Linked DNA regions of Homo sapiens: region 1 is linked to region 2. The links come from fine-mapping of genetic effects on gene expression. A gene starts in region 2. The other region holds a variant in brackets. All regions are shown on one strand. Distances are between the middles of the regions. Region 1 overlaps DTNBP1 (dystrobrevin binding protein 1). Region 2 holds the start of DTNBP1 (dystrobrevin binding protein 1).

Evidence for each region. PIP is the estimated chance that this variant, and not a neighbour inherited with it, causes the effect.
Region 1: its variant is fine-mapped to the expression of DTNBP1 in whole blood (TOPMed, PIP 0.94).

The regions. Positions count from the first base shown.
Region 1 is chr6:15,583,214-15,585,713 of GRCh38, reverse strand. All of the region lies in intron 7 of DTNBP1 (dystrobrevin binding protein 1), which reads left to right. Among named protein-coding and RNA genes, the nearest start is that of DTNBP1-AS1, 38 kb to the right of the region's middle. RefSeq lists a silencer at 2,230-2,430. The variant A/G (reference allele first, on the strand shown) is at 1,032.
Region 2 is chr6:15,661,665-15,664,164 of GRCh38, reverse strand. DTNBP1 (dystrobrevin binding protein 1) reads left to right here and starts at 1,137. Exons shown (of 10, transcript NM_032122.5): 1 at 1,137-1,351. The coding sequence starts at 1,296. RefSeq lists a silencer at 1,141-1,650 and an enhancer at 1,881-1,930.

The sequences.
Region 1 (2,500 bases), 78 kb after region 2:
TGGAACTTTATTTTCTGTTTTTCCTTTGCTGCTTTCCTTTGAAATGTTTATTTCCATGCCTGGATACATTGCTGTATTTGCATGGTATGCAGATGATATATTATTAAAAAGCAGAAATTAAATTTCAACTTGACTTGAACCTACAAGTAGTACATTTTTATGAGAGCATTATTAGTTCTTTCTATTACCAACAAGTAATAATTACTAAATTAATACCTAAAATAAGTTTAAAATGTTGCATGGAAATGTAGGACTTTTTTTTTTTTTTACAATATGTGTCTTTTCATGCATCAGGTGAAATTAATCAAACTGACATTTTTTATGAAGCAATATTTGTATTAAAAGATAAATATAAAATACCAGGAAAATAATACTAGCTATTTGAATAATGAGGCTGGTACAGCTCCATAAAACTAATTCGGCATCCCTTGCTGCTAGTATGTTCATTTTCCAAGAGGCAGTTAATAGAGTTAAATATGTGAGCCATATCCAAAGATAGTATAAAGTTAAAATTCATTCTATGGTACTATATGGATTTATCTAAAATGGCTGATTTTCAATATGGATTTTGAAAAATGTCATAATGCTTCATACAGGTTGAATATATATATATATATATATATATATATATATATATATATATATATATTCTTTTCATAATTTCATATAACTTCAGTGTATTCCTTATCTGTTAGCCAGAGGCTGTGGTTTTAATGACATCTCTGTGTGGTATTTATATATATATATAAATACATATATAAGGATATTGAAGTTGTGGAACTTACTGCAAAAAATACCTGAAAAATTAACTGTGCATTTTTTGTTGAGTAATTTATTGTACTATCCATGGGGGTGGTAACTGAGGAATAATTTTTAATAGTGATTGCATTTTTTAAAACTCCCTGTTATTTCTTTTAGTTGGCATACGTTATGGCATGTTATATACATCATGCCTTGTCAGGTAGAAGCCACTTCTCTGTAAATGAAAAAAAAAAAAAAAAAAAAAAAGAAATACATGTTGTCTCTCATCT[A/G]TCAAGGTTATTCTCTTTTTAATATTACAAATTTGAATAAGGTATATCAAACTTAAGAGAAAAGTTCCTTCTTTGTGTCCCTCTCTCACGCCTGTGTATGTATAACATAGCAAAACCTTTCAAGCTTAGATAGACATATTAACAGAAGTAAAATGATAGCTCAGGAATTCATTATAAAATTGGAGCATTAATGGAATCAAATTCTAACTAGAGGTTTTACCACATTCTTATTCATTATTAAGTGTTCAGGAAAAAACTTATCAGTGAGAACTTTGGCATTTATTTTTAAAGTATTTACTTATAGGGAATGTATGATAAATGACATATTTTCTCTTCTCTCAGTCATTATCTTAAATAATGGTTCTAAGAGTAAAGATCTGCATATAGGTATAATCTGATATTCAATTTTAATATTTTAGATCATTCATCTAAGAAATTGCTCCTTGAAAATCATGATTTGTTGGTAAATACTGGCAAGATTTTTGAGGTGTCTGCTCATCTTTTTCTCATATGTCAATATATGTTAAGTGTATATTCGTTTTTTTAAAAGCTGGCTTATATTTATGTAACAGTGTTTAAATAAAGTTAGTATCTATATCCTGTAATACCAAAATATTTATATCCTGTTTGTTAATTTTGGCTCTAAGACAGTTTATTTCTAAGACGGAGTTGATTGTTTATTCTAATACCATGTCTTAAGTTGTCATACTGGGCATGACCTGAAATTCTCTAAGACGATGTTCTATATTGAAGGGGAATTGGCACTTTAACAGCTTGTTTAGGTATTAAACTACATAAAAATAGAGCATCAAGATTAGGGTTGTGATGCTTAAATGTTACTTTTCTGGGATTTCTTGTAATGATCATATACCACCATTGTATGATCAATAATTATAGCAATAGAGTATTTTAGAAGTGAATCAGGACAACGTTTTGTTGTCTATCATAAATGTTTGGTATCATGAATAAATACAGCTATTCTGTTTCATTACCTTTTTGCTGGAACATGGTATAACTTGACAGCAAAAATTATACCTTTCAGAAAACTAAATTTTAAAACCACAAAAAGAAATCTTTGAAAATTTTAGCTGTCAGCCTTAACAAGAGACTTTGTCTGTTGAATTCATATGGAGCTTCATGATTTTGTCTTAGCTTTTTAGAGGTGTGTGCTGGAAAATAACCTGTGGGATCTTGTAGCTCTGCTGATTAAACTGTTGAAGGCAACTGGGATGGAGTTTGTACTTTTCTCAGAAGATTGGTAGTTGCCTAATGGTTTTTATAAACTTCTAGAGTAGGGGAGAAGTCAAGTGGCCAACTGAGCTGAGAAACTCTCACTCCTACTTAAATATTCATCTGGCTTTCCCTGTAAAGGTATGCCTATAGCATAAATATAAGTATATGGGTGGGAGCAGTGGCTCACACCTGTAATCCCAGCACTTTGGAAGGCCGAGGCAGGAGGATCGCTTGAG
Region 2 (2,500 bases):
AGTGAAGATATAGAAAGAGAAGGAGGTTCCAGAAATACTTCAGGAGTAGAGTTGATTGGATTTGATGGGTTAATATGGGGAATGAGGAAAAGAGGGGAACCAGAGGTGATTTCAAGTGTCTTACCTTGAGCAAATTGGTGGATGGTGGTGTCATTTACTGAAACGGAAAATACAGGATGAGCAGATTAAAGGTGAACATGCAATGAATGAAATTTTCAATTTTGTGTATGTTGGTCTGAGATGCCTTTTGGATACATGTTGTATACATGCTTACATGAGTAAGCAACTGGTATGAATTGACGGAGAGGGAGGAAGGACAGGGCAGAAGATAGAGCTGTGGGAGTCATCGGTTCCTTGACAGAATTTACAGCGTGGTAATGGATAGACTCTATGCTATCCATCTATGGAACAACACATCTGGAGAAGAGAGAAGAGCTGGGGAGGCTGGACTGTAGCCTTGGGAGTGGCTATTAAAATAGGAGAAGGGGTGGAGCGGAAGGGAGAGAGGAACTATGGAGTGCTTAGCAAGAGAAGAAAGTGTTTTAAGGATGGGGATGATAAACTGCATTGAAAGCCACTGAGAGGTGGAGAAAAAATCAGGGCAGAGAAGTAATAAAAGGCATCAGCAACATGGAAGTCACTGGTGACTCGCGAAAGGCGATCACCTTTGGTGTGTAGGGCACAAAAGCCTGGGGGGGTAAAGAGAGAGTGGAAAGTAAGAATGTCGAGACAGTCGACTATTATTGCCATTTTATGAATGAAGAAACCGAGGCTCAATATTTGACTGTCTCATTCAAGGTGAAAGCCAGTGGGGTCAGATCCTGGACCTAGAATCCATGCAATGATTTGTGCACATCGCCTATTGAAGAGAGAGATCCAATTCTCTTCCAAAACGTAAAAGCCAACACTTCCCTCAAAGGAGGCTTCGAGTTAAATCATCCTTTCACGATGCCGCTTCCATTTTAAAGAAAAAAAAAAAAAAACGAGAAGGCCTGGTGCGGGATAGGAATGAGCCGAGGAGCTACTGGCCCTCTCGGTCGGGGGAAGACCCGCCCCTTTTCCGCAGCCCGAGCCCGGCGCAGTCCACTGCGGCTGCGCGAGCCTGGCGCGCGCGGGGCGGGAACGCGGAAGGGGCTGGGGTTGCGGCGCGGCGGCGAGGACCAGACCGGGGGCGGGGCCGGTAGTGGGAGTGCGGGGCGCGCGGTGACAGCGCGGGGTTGGCGGCGTGGGACCCAGGGGGCGACAGAGGCAGCAGCAGCCCGAGGCCTGAGGAGAGGAGACCGGCGGCGGCGGCAATGCTGGAGACCCTTCGCGAGCGGCTGCTGAGCGTGCAGCAGGATTTCACCTCCGGGTGGGTATACGGTGGGCGACGAAAAGGGACCTGAGGGGGCCGGGCCGCCGCCTGGGATGCCCCTGCCTCGCTCCCTTCCCCGCGCCACGGTCCAGGGTCCGTCCTGTCCCGCACCTCCCCGCCCCGCCCCGCCGAGGAAAGTAACGAACTTCCCGGCGTCCTCGCGTCGGGCGGCGCAAAGTAACTTAGGTCCCTGCGGGCCGCCTGTGACGCGCACCCCCCAGGACCGGGAGGCGCTCGGCGGCGCAGCGGAGCGCCCGGGGGGGGTGTGGGACCCTGCGGTCCTTTCCCGGCAGCATCAGCTGGGCCCTGGAGGGAAGTCATGTGAGAAGCCAGCGCGCCTCACCGCTTCCGCCCCCGCGGCACAGTGGCCTGCGCCCCTCGGCCCAGCAGACACCTGCTCGTGCGCACCTGGAGCTGGGCCAGCCACCCTCCCCGAGTCGGATCGCACCGCGCAGCAGCCTGCACCCTCCGGCCACAGCCTTCCGCGCCGCGTCTCGGCTTTCACGCCCGGCTCGCCGGCCTAACCCTTGGCAAGGCTGGCCGCCCCTCCCCGTTGCGTCCTTTCTCTACCTTTGCCGTGAGCTCAGCGCCTCGGCGAAGGAACTCCTAAGCAGGAGAAGCGACAGAACTTTAGGAATGCTTTTAATACCCAGCGGTTCCCAAACTTTGCTTAGAATCACCTGGGAACCTTTCAGAGTTCTGATGCCCAGGTCTCACCCCCTACCTGTTGACCAGAGTGCCTGGAGACGGCGTTTTAAAGATCCCCAGGGGATTCCAGTGGGCACCAACGCCTGGGAACCACAGGCCGAGACTCTGGCGCCAGATTGCCTAGGCATCCTGGCTCGACCACTAAATCAAACGTAGTTACTCAGCTGCCTTGCCTCAATGTACTGTTTCCGCTACCGTAAAATGGGGATAATGATGGTACTTAAAAGGTTATTACAAGGATTAATGAATTAATGTGTAAAACACGAAGCAAGCATCATGTCAGTATTGTTACTTAGTGCTTAATTTTAATTTTTTCATTCCTTTAAAGTGAAAAAGATCTGTCTTTGAAAAGGATCTTTCAACTTTAGCTTACAAATCCTGTTGGAGGATGCACTGAATGTGAGAACATTTCCACTCATACTGTTTTAAATTTCTCCC